Linked DNA regions of Homo sapiens. The protein of the gene in region 2 interacts with the protein of the main gene of each other region in a biochemical or structural test. Each region holds a gene or a part of one and is shown on either strand. Other genes may lie near its edges.

Region 1 (7,027 bases), on a different chromosome or scaffold from region 2:
GGTGGGCAGTGCTCTGAGAGGTGTGTGACTGTGGCAGGGCTTTCAGGACCGAAGCGACGGCCACTCACAGAGAGCTGGGGGGGCGAGCCACTGCCTGGGTGATGTCTGCTCAAGTTCCACCCACCCTCCGCAATCCAGAAGTCTTCCCAAGTATTCTCCACCTGAATTATGTGGAAGTTTCCTGACTTCTCTACTTTCCAGGACAGCTCTCCTTGGCTGGCGGGACTGGTTTTTCCACTCTGGCTGGTGTCAGACATACTCAGAAGAATGAACATCTAATGACATGTTTGTCAAAGTAATGCGCGTCCTGCAGCCCATGCCCAGCATCTCATTGACAGCTGCTCTGTCAGCTGGCAAACTCTACGCCCATCAAAGCTTTCCAACCATTCCTCTTGCACCGCAGGCGAGCTGACTGCTGCTGGTGCTAATGAGGTTGAGATTGTCACACACCTTCCTGGGACACAATTGTGTTGCACAAACACACAGCGGGCCGCACGGCAGGGCAGACACACACAGACCCCAGCCTCACACCAGCTGGGCAAAGCCCCCCACATCCAGGGGCTTTGAAAGGATTAACCATTGTAAACAAACATGAGCTGAGGTCACGCAAGTCACAACAGGTAGGGGGTGTGAAAAGGCGTGCCTAGTACACAAATAAAAAATTAAAAATACCATTACCCCAACACCCAAGAGTAGACACTCTTTTTTAAAGTGTGGGTCTTTTTCTAACGCACACGTGGAAGTATAATAAGAACGTCGTCGTTTTCAATCACGTTATCTTCCAAGGATTTTTAAAGCATGAGAAAGCTGTCCCTACATAATTTTGAGTGTCGTTAGTTTTCCTTCTGGCGGCCAACTTTTCTCAGCCGGAGCTGGAAATTAGGCCTGAACAGTGTTCCCTGAGTGAGGCTGGTGGATTTGGGGGGTGGGAGAGGGGAAACAGGGCTCCCTATCATCCCAGGAAGTCTAGGAGAAGGTGGGATGGGACAAATCCAGCTTAGGCTCTGGGGACATGTGCAGAGGGTGAGTCCTGCGGGGGGATCAGCTGCAGTCATAGTAAGTCAAGTATTCCGCATTTATTCCAGAAAGACTTCAAGGCAAAGAGGCCAGTGGAGGCAGATCTAACTTTGGATGTAAGCACAGGAGGTTTACCGTTTAGATTCTAAACACAAATCATCAGTACTTAAATAAACAATAATTTAAAAATAACTTGCAATATTATTCGTCTGGATGCAAAAGAAGGCAAAACAAAACAAAAAGCAATGTGTAGATATTGCAGGAAACATAAACAGCACCGATGAGCAAAGCACAGTGACTGCAATCCCAGCACACAGACGTGGCCACACGCCACCCTTTGAGCATTACCTGCTCCTTGGCTGTAGTCTTAGTGTACACATTTATTAATATATTCTGCGAAAATGAAATCCAACATGCAATGCGTTAAAATTGGGCTTTACAGAGGGAGCACTGTAGGCTTTAGTCCCTGGAATTAATAACTTCTGTTAGTGAGCTCCAGGGCTGGGGCTCACAGGCTCAGTTCTGCTGGTACCACCTGTGGGACCTTAAAACTCTGAGTATGGGTATAAATTAGTAGCTTCTCACCAGATTCCTTATGAGGATTTGGTTATTATTGTAATTCATTAACATGTAACATAATTTTCTTAATGCTAAACAGGGGACAGAACTTTCTGGGGTGTTTCAGGCTATCTTCCTCTCCTCTTCAACTCTGTGTTCTCTGTATTAGGTCACTGCACAAACACCTCCCTCATTCTCAGGGGTTCCCAGGGTGTCACTTCCCTGTCCTGTCCCTACTTCAAGCTCCTTGAACAGTACACAGTGAAGGCTGCTGAGGTCACGTCAGGGTCCTTGGCCCTTGTGTGTGTCCCTTGGGTTATACAGAACAGGGATAGCAGGGATTCCTGAGATCCCACTGGGGAAAGAGGCCATCAGAGCAGAGTCAGGAGAGGACACCTCCTAAGGAGCAGTGCCAAGCTCAGATGCAGGCCTTTAGGGAGAATCATGGGGGCTGGGGAGTGCCACACTTTGGCCTTTCGGAACACCTTAACATTTTCTGGTTATCTGTCCTGCCACGAGCTTGGAGGTGGGGATGGGTTTGTCCAAAGCCCATTGCGCCCCGGTCCCTGGGACCTGTAAGAATCAACGGGGGATCCCTGGGGACCTAGAAACGCAGGCTGTCTGTGCCCCAGGCCTCCTGAATGAGATTCTGCATTTCATCAGGATCCCCAGGGGACATGTGCACCTGATAATTTGAGAAGTGCTGCTCTATGGGACTCAAACCATTTAGATGGCCTGATTCTCAACTTTAGCTACACGTTAGAATCACTAGGGAACTTTGAAAAATTAGCCATGCTGGCCGGGCGCCGTGGCTCACACCTGTAATCCCACCCCTTTGGGAGGCTGAGGTGGGTGGATCACTTGAGGTCAGGAATTCTAGACCAGCCTGGCCAACATGGTGAAACTTCGTCTCTACTAAAAATACAAAAATTAGCTGGGCGTGGTGGCGCACGCCTGTAGTACCAGCTACTCAGGAGGCTGAGGCAGGAGAATCACTTGAACCTGGGAGGTGGAAGTTGCAGTGAGCTGAGGTCATGCTACTGCACTCCAGCCTGGGTGACAGAGCAAGACACTGTCTCAAAAAAAAAAAAAAAAAAAAAAGAAAAAAAGAAAAGAAAAAGAAAAGAAAGAAAGAAAATGAAAAAGAAAAAATTACCCATGCTTGTTCACTCCCCGCCCCCCTGCCCCAAGATGCTGCTCCAGTGGGTCCAGGTGGTGCCAGGGCCCTGCCGGTTTGAGCCACTACCCAGTGACTGTGTGGGCCGTGGTTGAGAAGCACTCCTTTAGATCACCAACTGTTGACCAGGAGGGGAGGGAGCAGCGCCTCCTGTGGGCTTTTTCAGATGACACAGTCACCTACCCTACAGGCCCCAAACAGACCCAAGGTCCCTGTCCCCACCCTCGTCCCTCAGGGCTGCGAAGAGGAGCAGCAGGAGGATAAGGGAGCCTCACGTGCACTGGAAAGGTGGAGGTGCTACCCCCAAATCGGGGACTGCGTTCTATCACCCACGCCACCTCGATCTCACACCAACAGAGCAAGGTCTTCCTACCACACAACTGAAAAAAGACACACGTCTAATACAAAGAAAAAGAAAATTTACAAAGATGCAAGTTGAACACTCTGGAAAGATTTAGTGCTGGGCAATGTCAAGAAGCAAATTCGTTTCCCATTTCATAATGTGATGGATGTGAAACGACACCTTCCAGAAACATCACCCTGGTCAGCTGCTGGACATTTCAGATGGAGTGAAAACACTCAAACAACTGAACAAAGTGTCTGCCAAGCCAGGTACAGTGGCCGATCGTTAGTTAACACGGTTAAGGGTACAAACGTGGGCCTCTCAGACCCAACCTGTTGACCCTTTCACCTCCCATAGTGTGGCCTAGCATTTAAGAATGAGTGTTGCAGCATTAAGACAGGGTTCAGATGGCAATTCTGTGATTTCTGAGTTGTTGACCTTGAACACGTTTCCAGGCTTCTCTTACCCTCATGTTCCTCAGCTATAAAACGGAAATAAAAGTACCATGTGCCAGGTTGTCGTGAGGATTTTATGACATTATTTCGTAAAGTTCTGAACTTTGTACATGTAGTGCCTGGTACATACTAAGGGATTGACAAATATTTGTAAACGATGATATCCTATTGGTCTTAAAGGTGGTGCAAGTGTAGCGGAAAATCTGGCAAAATACGTGCCAAGAGCTTAACGATGTTCAAGACCAATCATTCAACTTCTGTAAACCTGCATTACAGAAATAACCTTGAAACCAGGTATGAAGAGATGGGAAGGAAATGCTCTCAGTAGGAGTAAACAACTAGAAGCAACCCAAATGTCCCACAGGAGAATAAGGATTAGGTCAATAACTGCACATAGCACTCCCGCAGATAATGATGTTTGTTTTGGTTCGGAGTACTGCCCAATTTATGAATCATTTTTTGATCCAATTATTAAATCGTAAAAAAATAAAATAAAATAAATGAAATGATGTTTCACTTGATTGCGGGAGCCAGGTGGTGCCCTAAGCAAATGTCACTGATGGACGGTGAAGAGAAAAAAGCAACATGCAACATTACATACACCTTGTAAGTACAATAAGGTTAAAACAAAGTCCCCTAAACACAGAGAAGCAGAGACTAGGAGAGAACATGCCAAGATGCTCATTGTACTTGTGTTTGAGATAGCGGGATTCTGGATGATTCCTTTCCCTTCTTCCTTTTTTTTAAATTATTTTTTTCAATTTTTCCTTAATAAACATGTATTATTTTTATAATGAAAAAACAAAACTACATCCTTTTTCTTAAAAGTTCTTTAACCCAGCATGAAGTGATGTCCCAATTGTTAAGATCTGTGAGTCCACAATAAATTTTGTACACTGTTCCTCAATTTTTAGAATTTAAGAGTCCCAAGATATATTATATGATGAAAGAGCACCAAATGATGGACATTTGATTTCCACTGGTTGAGAACTCCTTGTTCTTACATAGCCTAGACACCCTGCAGGATGAGCATGGCAGGTCACACCCAGGCAGGCATAAGCACAGCCCTGTCCTTACCGTTAAGCGTCTCCATGGCACGTTCTGGACACACAGCTGACTCCTCCGGCCCCACACACCAGTACATGCTGGGGGGTCTTTGCGACATGCCAGCCATCAACCCTTGCAGCAGCCGATCTTCAAAGGCAGGTCCCGCTGTTGTCACTGCCACTGCCGCTGGCTGTGGGGTGCATTAAGGCGTGGACTCGTAGCCATGGCTGAGCAGAAAGCTTTCTTGCTCTGGTGGCGAAAAACAATCAAAACAGAAAGCCTTTATAATTCCTGTCCTCCTCCCCTGCAAATATTTGCATGGGTTCATTTAGTTTTCCCTCTGCAACATTCCTTTTTGTAGTCCATCTATCCAGCCAAACCCATCAGGTGTGGTCAGTGGGAAGGCACAGCTCCCCCCATCCCATCTTGATGCGGGGCTCAGGTATTGTCTACCTGAGAAGAGTCTCAAACAAACCCCAGACAATTGGAAAACACATACTGGTAACAGCTTCAATCATTGTTCAGTCAACGCACACCTACTGTCACATGCAAGGTAGCCAGGCTCTGTGTGAGGCTCAGTGGCACCAAGATGGCTCAAGGAGGCTCTTGCCCTCAGGGGCACACTCCAGTGGGGGTAGGGCAGACATAGTTAAGGTTAGTCACGATACAAGGCTCTCCTTTTGCCCGGGGCCAGTTCTTCTGGAAGCCAGAGGTGAGCACGTCATCCCAAGGGGGTGGTCAGGCAACAGTTCCAAAGACATGGAATTATTACTGGTTATGAAGTCAAGTTAGCATGAGCTTTAGCAGAAAGCTAAATGACGGAGGTTAGCAGACATGAGCCTCAAAAATTCTGCCCCTTTCCCAGGGGACATTTGGCAATGTCTGGAGACATTTTTGGTTGCCACAACTTGGCTGGGGGAGAGTGCTACAGGCCTCTAATGGGTAGAGGTCAATGATGCTGCTAAACATCCTACAATGTACAGGACTGCTATTTGCAACAAAGAATTATCTGGCCCCAAAAGTTCCAGGGTGGAGTTAGACTAATCTCTGAAACTAATGACTATGATAAACTGAGACCAAGTGCTGCTCTTCTATGCTGGGCCCCCACTGAGCTTAGAGTCCCCCCATGGGCATAAGTGCCCATCCTGGTATGGTGATTGAAGGACCAGAGGGAGGGTAAGACCCATGCCTAGCTCAGGCCTGACATGAGGTACTACCATAAGTAATGCATGTGCGCCTATCCTTGTTCTTATAGCATATCCTACATGTGATGAAGTACGAGGTAATTAGCACCTCTTGTCTGTGTTCTCTCAGATAGACAACTCTGAAATGGGGAGTGATAGTGCAGCCAAAAATATATTTTTTAAATCAAGGTTATATAAAAATAATGCCTAAGAGAATCTGTACAGGCAAAAGCATAGCGTGGACGTTAAAGGTGTGGACTGCCTGTGTCACATGTTCGCAGTGTGACTCCCAGCTGAAAGGTATGTGTGTCTCAGTTTTCACCTGTTAAAAATAGACATCCACCCTTATGCCCGGGCCTGCTAGTGGGGTTACTGTGTGAATTCAACCAAAGTGAAGTTTCTGCAGCCTCTCTCTACGACAGGGCTGGGGTGGTCATTACCTGTAGTACCAGCGCACAGACTTGGAGGCCAGCGGGTCTCCCACTTCCCTGCTAATTAATAAGATCAGAATATCAATGCTGGAGGGCAGATGCCAGCCTCACCAGCGGGTAGGTTCTAGAAGATGCCGTGAGCAGTAGGGGCACGAAGTAAGGTACAGGACAAGGCTGTGGGAATTTCTCACCTAAAAGCCTAGAACTCAGGCACCTGGCCCAGGTGGACTGGACTCGTCAAGGCAGGGAAAGGTGGAGCTAGAAAAGCCAGGCTCCAGCAGCCTTGTGCAAGCTGCACATGTTTCAGAGGCAAAAGGGATGGTCGACACAAACCACGTGTGGGAAACACCTGTGTTTGAAGTTGGGAAGCCTGAAAAGTCGAAGGAGGAAAGGAAAAACGATCAATCTGGGCAAAATTTAGGGGATGATGAAAGCCTTATAAATAGCAAAACCTGATTTGGAAAATCAACTTGTGACAGAGAGAGGAAGAGCCAGCAAGACAGAATCTGTTTTAAAATAAACGTTCCGATCACACATTCACATCCAGAAACTGAGAAGCACAGTTGCCATCTGCTTTCAGACACCTCTCCAAAACAGCTACCGCACATAACCAACAGCATTTCAAAAATCCAAACGCTAGACATTCTTCCTGAAAACAGAAGTGTCTTACCATACAATGTTTTTAAGTTCTAAAAAAAAAAAAATCTTAAAATTATTTCAGGCTAACCCTCACCCAGCACATTTTGTTCCCCTTTTCATTTTCAGTTTCCTTTTGAAAATCACTTTACCAGTGGAAGACTCTGCCCCTGGAGCAG
Region 2 (7,027 bases):
TGCACGCACACACACCGTGTACACACACACACACTGCACACATACTTTTCTTGCTTTTGCTGTGAATCACACCGTTTCACCTGTGCTATCTTTGAAGCAGAGGTTTTCTTTATTCCTCCTTTGGAAATGATGTGGCATATTCTTTTCCCTCCTCCATTTTTGTCCTCAGTCAAAGCTAAAAGGAGCAGTTTTTATGATGAGATTTGGGGAGGCTCCAGCAGTGTTGAAATCCTATGACATAACTTGAAACATCGAGTGGGTACATAAAAAATGTAGAGTTTAGAGATTTTTGTATTAAAGGCCTCCCTGCCACCCCCAGTCTTAGAAAATGTGGTTCATTCCTGTGGTTCACAGAATCTGAAGCCTGAGATTGATGAGCCCCTTCTTGTGATTGTTTTAATCATTCTCTAAAGTTTGTGCATTTTACTGTACCCTTAGTCACAGAGAGTACTGAGTGAATTTAAAGTTGCTTGGAATATATTAAGCTTTCTTGGAAAATTCTCTTTCCCTTGGATCAAATGGGTGAACAGAATATTAAGTTGAGTGTCCTCTTCTAACTTATACTCTGAAAATTTAGCCAGTAGGTTTGCATATGGAAAGTTATTGGTCCAATCACATACCATGACTATAATTTACATAATTTACATCATCATTATTAATAAATTCCTGCATTATTCATCAGAATTTGCATCTGCTCAGTTTCCTCACCCTTCTACAGAGGTTGAAGACATTTAGCAGCCCTGGACTGCCATTTAGTCACAGGGGAAGGGAATTCAGGCTTCGAAGTCCTTTTTGGATCAGCTGCGTTGAATGCGCTGCAGTTGTGTTCACTCTTCGTAAGTGGCTGCTTGGCGGAAGACTGAAAGACACTTCTCCATTTGAAAATGAATCCTGACAAGTGTAAACTGGTGGGAATTTTCTGTAGCCTTCCTGGGATTCTTTTGATTTTGCTGGTCTCCTTTCTTCCCAAGAGCGACAGTGAGGGTGGGAGACTGCTCACCTCCAGCCCAGCAGAAATACGGAGCTGTGAGCAGACTCCTCCAACAGTTTAGCTTTCTAAAGCCCAGTTGGACTAAGAGAAGGGAACGAGGTTGGTTATGCCAACCCGAGCATTTTTAACTTGCTTTTGTAGTTGCCCTTGAAACTAAGGTCACGTTGCTTCTGCTCATTGAGGGCGGTGGAGGCGATAGTGGATAGTAGAAGAGAGCACACATTGCCTCACTGAAGTGGCTGCACGTATCTGAGTCCTGTAGCTACTGTTTTATCTCTGTTTCTTAAAAGTATGCTTTTAAAAAGATTAGCCTCACACATTTCTGTGGACCGGTCTGGTGGTATCACCTGGGACTCTGAGGTGAGGATGGAAGGATTTAGCAGATAATGAAAAAGAACTCTGTTTGCGCACATTTGAGAGGCTGAAAAATGGTTTTATCCCACTTGGGCTGGAGTGATTTGGCATTGGGGAAGATTCCCTGACTCGCCAATCTCTTTCCTTTAGTGACTGCAGCAGCAGCGGCAGCGCCTCGGTTCCTGAGCCCACCGCAGGCTGAAGGCATTGCGCGTAGTCCATGCCCGTAGAGGAAGTGTGCAGATGGGATTAACGTCCACATGGAGATATGGAAGAGGACCGGGGATTGGTACCGTAACCATGGTCAGCTGGGGTCGTTTCATCTGCCTGGTCGTGGTCACCATGGCAACCTTGTCCCTGGCCCGGCCCTCCTTCAGTTTAGTTGAGGATACCACATTAGAGCCAGAAGGTAAGTCATTTAATTTCACTTTTCAGGTTTGTTTTGGGATTTGTCTGGGGGCAGATTGTTAAGGCCTGTTTTAGAATCAGCTACCCTTGCATTGTAAATGGGGCTTCTAAGAGCACCAGATCGTGGTCTCTTGGCTCCCGGCAAGGCAGAGCTGATGAGAGAAGGTCCTTTGCCGCAGCACTGCAGGCAGGATGGTATAGTTTGGTGGTTTCTTGCTGTGTGTGTTTCTCTGTGCTGGGTGAGGGAGACAGCTGGGAGTTGGCCTTTATCCAGTGCCCGAGAGAGCTGTGGAAGGGATGAACCTTGGGAGGATGAATGTCATCTCTAGTCTCCCCCAGCATCATTCCTACTGCTTACAATGTAAAGAATTGCTATTTTCGGACAAGATGAACCACTAAAAGAAATTGCCAACATCTGAAATGCTGACATCTTATTTTCATTGTTTAAGGAGAAAAGAAGTTTCTGAAGTTTAGCACAGAGAGAGAGGCTTGACATCTCAGAATTTTTTTTTAGCCATTGTAATTCATAATACTTAAGCAATGCATCATCACAGAGTGGCAGATTCTAGTTTAGGTAAACTTGAAAGTGAATGTGCCAGGGGATCTCCTCCAGCTCCGAGAACCTCCAAGTATCACAGGGCATGCGCCGGTGTCACAGCTTTGGAAATTTAATTTTCAAGGTGTAAGTCCAATTACGAGGACTACATGAGGCTGAATTATTCAGCTTAGCAGATTTGGAACCTCTCTCCCAGCCCTTTGGAGACAACGTGAGCCAAGCCTCTACTTGGTGCTGCACTGAAATCTGTCATCAGTAGGGAATATTGGTAGCTGAGTTATTTTTCGAGTGGTAATCCGAGAATAAAACGGCAGATCCCAGCACTCATCGCCACTTAATGAACCTGTTTGTGGAGAGTCCACCTGGTGCCTGCCTGGCTTTAGGAACCCGCAGCAGTCCGAGTGGTGTCTGGGGTAAGCTGAGCTGCTCTGGGAACACATCTCGTGCGTGGGGTGAATGAACAGCACACTTACCCAGTGGGGTAGGCTGGGAGAGGACAGAGAGCCCAGCCTCCTTAGCTGGATCAGGACAGTTTAGGAAGGAGGGTTGCGTCCATCTGAGATGAGAGTTCTGAGAGACATGGGCTCCCCAGGAAGACCCCAGGCACTTGTCATTGAAGGATGAGGACCGAAGCACTTATCACCTGAAGCAATCGTGTGAGACTGGGGAACTTTTCGTTACACAGAGGGATGGCAGCTCTATAATTAACAGGTGTGGTGACATCTCCCTGCGTCTCTGGGAAGGGAATCTGGTAGGAGTTTGTGTCTGAGGCTTGTATAGCTACAGCTACAGGCCGATTATGGAACTGCCTCTTGGTGATTTGTGCTGGGACACCAGGATGAGTGTAATTTGCAGTGGTGATGCATTTTTACAGGGCTTTCATGTAAGAGGGAAAAAGTTCCTGGTTTCTGAAAGTCATGCCTGTACGTCTTTAATTTTGCTAATAATTAAAATGGATGTTTCCGTGATTGCTGGTTTTCCCTTGAGTGCGTGGCTCGGCAAAAACTGAGGAAGCTGAGCTGGGATTTCCTACGGTGTGGGCTTTAGGAGCAACCCAGGTTAGGGAAAAACTGTCATTTTTCATTTTGGCTTTTCAGGGCAGCGTTATTGTGAGTTTATTTCAACATAAAGTGTAAAATGGTCCCAGAGGATTTGTTTTACTGTATTTAATTCTTGAAGGAAGTTTAAAATTGTGTATACATGCAGGGAGGGACAGGTGAGGCAGAGGGAAGAAATCGTGGAAAGGGACGAAGTTCCCCGAGTGAGTCTTTGTGTAAGAATTTACATCCAACAATGTGGGTATTGTTGGAAGCAGGCCTGCTCAACCTGGGATCTGTGGATGCACTTATGGATCAGGAAGGAGGTCGATGAAGTTCTGGAAATTTTAGGTAATATTTTGTTAATGTCCTTTTGTGCATTTTTATGGGTTTATAGTTTCCATGAGCTATGAGTTCATTTGCATCCAGAATTATGAGATGGAAAAGAAAAGATGTCTTAGAGGAAGGTGCAAAACCTGGCAAAGAAGAGGCTTTGGAAAAGTATACAAGTCCCAGGCCTCAGTTTCCCTTTCTGTCGTCTGAGGGCTTAAGAAGATGATCTTTAGGGTCTCTTCATTAATAGTCATTGAATATTAATGTCCTCAGAAGTCTTCTGACTCTTCCACCAAAAGGTTGTTAGGAGATTTCCATTTGACCTGGACATAAAGAGCAATTAGCACAGGGGCTGGCATCCAGTAAGCACCGGGTGCATGGCCTTGTCGCCGTTGTCGCCAGGGAGCTGGGAACATGGGTCTTCCCAGTCCCGTGGGCTGGCTGTGCCAGGTGCCACAATGTCAAAAAACATCTAGGCTTTTGGAGACAGTTGAGAAGAAAGTTGTTTTTGGATGGAGGAGGCCCTTGGTGTTTCCAGGAAGCTGTGTTTGCTTTCTGTAGGGTCCCCACTTCCCCTCATCTGTTAGTCTAATACTGGCCACTGATTTGAGCCCTAAGACCAGTTCTTCTGTTGCAGGAGTTCGCTTTGGTGTCAGAGGTGATTAGGAAGGTCATTGAATTATAGATGAGAAAGGAGTTTTTAACAGCTGAAAATGGGCTCAGGTTTAGGCTCTGTGCTGGTGAATTGGAAGAGAGAGAGAGAGAGAGAGAGTGTGCGTGTGTGTGTGTGTGTGCGCGAGTGCGCGTGCGTGCGTGCGTGCCTGTGCCCCTGTCCATCAGTTCTCCATGATTAGAACTACTATAGCTTTGGTTAGCAGTAAGTTCCACCTTGACCTTCTGTGCACCAAGGTCTTATCTTGTAAGACTTTTTGGTTTGCTAATTTATTTGGAAGCTCAGTTTAGATAATGTCTATTGGATAGGAGAAAAATGTGACTGAGAAGTTCCAGGAAGAAGCCTGGGCCCTAACACTAGAGGGTCCTTTTCTTTTGGCCCCTCAGGGAAAGGTTATGTTTAGTCATCTTGGCTTTGTGCAATATCGTATCATATCATATGTCATATCATATATCATATATATCATTTGTCTTCTGGACACGTTCTGAAATAGTAGCAGTGGGGTTGGGCCCACTCAATTGACTTAAGAAAATAATCTCTAGAAGATTTTAGTTTTTAATATTTCAGATTAAATATGAGTTTTCCAGTTGGTCATTCATTGTTAATTTCCTTTTGGTCATTCATTGTTATAGGGCACCAGCAGAGGAGTGAAAACATGGTTATTGACTCGAAGGGGGGCAGTCCTCAATGCCAAGTACTATTCTGTTGATTAACATTATAAATATTTGAAGTCTAGTCAAGCTTGATTACCCTGAGAGGGGGCAACTCTTACTTTCAAGTTCTTCCTGACATTGTCACCTACTCTGGTTAATTAAGTCATTGTTGACATTAATGGCATCTTTGTTTACACCAACCCAGTAGGAGCTAAAATGAAAGGGCTTTTCAACCCTACACCCTTAATTACTTTCCCACCCTCCACAGAGTGTGACTCTGAAAAGTAACAACCTGAAAAAAAATGTAGTTTGTGTAGCAATTTTTTGTCAATCTTCTGAGAGGTGATGCTCTCCTGGACCAACGTGAGTTGGTCCAGAGTTCAGTAGCAGAAACGTCGAGGACAGGATCTACACAGAGACCTCCCTAAGTCAGATTTTTCCAGTATGGTTTAAGTCCTTTGTTAGAAGTATTGTAAATGCCATAATATTAACCATACGCATTTAATTGCAAGTTAAAAGAAAGGAAGAAAGAATATATCCGCATACCAAGAGTGAATGATTTAAAATAATCTTCTGTTTCGTATTATCTGCATCTTTGTTTTTCAATATGAGTGTTAATATTTAAGAGTTGACTGTAACTTGATAGTTAGCTTTGGAACAAGGACTTATTCTTGGTCAATTAAACCAAATACAGGCTTACGCAGTTAAATACACAATGAAGTACACATTCTTTATTAGTATATAAAGTGTTTCACAATTCATAGACCAAGAGCCATGTTTAATATTACTTATAGAGCAGAAATCTGGCAAGCCCAGAGAACTGGTACTTGTATCATTTTATACTGGCTCTCTCTGATTCAAATTTGGGGTATATGTGTGTGTTTCTGTTTTGTCTGTTTATTTCAACCAGTTAAAAGACAGAGCACTTACTATGCCAATGGCCCCGCATCAAGCCATAAGTAAAGACTTTATTCCTTTCAAGTCTTTCTGACCCAGTTGAGGGTGAGAATTCACAAAACCACAGCAATCCAATATGAGATGTTTTTAATATCAGACTTAACAAATAATTACATGGCTATGAAATAACTGGGGTCGTGTTTAAACTGGAAGTGTTTTGTTTAATGTTCGTAGTTTCAATAAAATGTATCCACTAGTCTTCCAGTTTGCAGACTGTTGTTTAGGTGTTTGTTTAGCCAGGGTAATTGTTAAAAACTCCCTCTAATCTAGCTTACCCTTACATTTCCATGGAAGCGAATTTTAGTCATTAAAGGAAAACATGGGAAATTGATTTTTGGGTGCCTGGCTGTTAAGCTAGGTAGGAAATATAGCTGGTGTGCTACTCTCCACTGTACTGGTCCGATTCTCGCCAGGGGGACATCTCTGTAGGCAGTTCAGAAATTATTTTTTGGAAGTTTTTTAGGCTATTCCACAGATAATTCTGATCCAGTAGGTTTTATGCAACTGTGCAAAATGCTTATGGTCTCTATTTTTTTTTCCTTGAGAGATGATTTTAGCCTTTGGTTTTTTGTTTGTTTTTGTTTTTTGAGACAGAGTCTTGATCTGCCACCCAGGCTGGAGTACAATGGTGCAATTGTACCCTCACTGCATTGTCAAACGTGGCTCACTGTACCCTCGGACTCCTGGGCTGAAGGGGTCCTCCAACCTCCTGAGTAGCTGGGACTACAGGCCTGGATAATTTTTAAAAATATTTCGTAGATATGGGGTTTCGCCATGTTGCTCAGGCTGGTCTCCAACTCCTGGCAGCCTTGGCCTCCCAAAGTGCTGGGATTACAAGTGTGAGCCACCACACCTGTCCTAGCCTTAAGTTTTGCATTTTTTTCCATCTTTTTGCTGTATCCCATATGATTTAGAGATTTTTGCTGTATCCCATGAGATTTAGAGATGGCTCTACTTTTTTTAGCTTTCCTAGCATTGAAATGCTTGGTGTTGCTAATCATACCCCATCTTTACCACACCATCTTCCTCCCTGACTTGCCTTCTTAGTGTAGTTTGGTCAAGAAC

The links.
Region 1: the proteins of FGFR2 (region 2) and LRRK1 form a complex in vitro, tested with the Homo sapiens proteins (2 studies listed by BioGRID and IntAct, with this or other methods).

Annotation. Positions count from the first base shown.
Region 1 is NC_000015.10:100,922,330-100,929,356, reverse strand, and holds part of LRRK1 (leucine-rich repeat serine/threonine-protein kinase 1), read right to left. Parts: intron 4,847-7,027; 5' UTR 4,725-4,846; coding exon 4,628-4,724; intron 1-4,627.
Region 2 is NC_000010.11:121,588,436-121,595,462, reverse strand, and holds part of FGFR2 (fibroblast growth factor receptor 2 isoform 1 precursor), read left to right. Parts: intron 1-1,204; exon of another isoform or gene 1,205-1,495; 5' UTR 1,496-1,588; coding exon of another isoform or gene 1,589-1,645; coding exon 1,646-1,754; intron 1,755-7,027. UniProt on the Homo sapiens protein: Tyrosine-protein kinase that acts as a cell-surface receptor for fibroblast growth factors and plays an essential role in the regulation of cell proliferation, differentiation, migration and apoptosis, and in the regulation of embryonic development.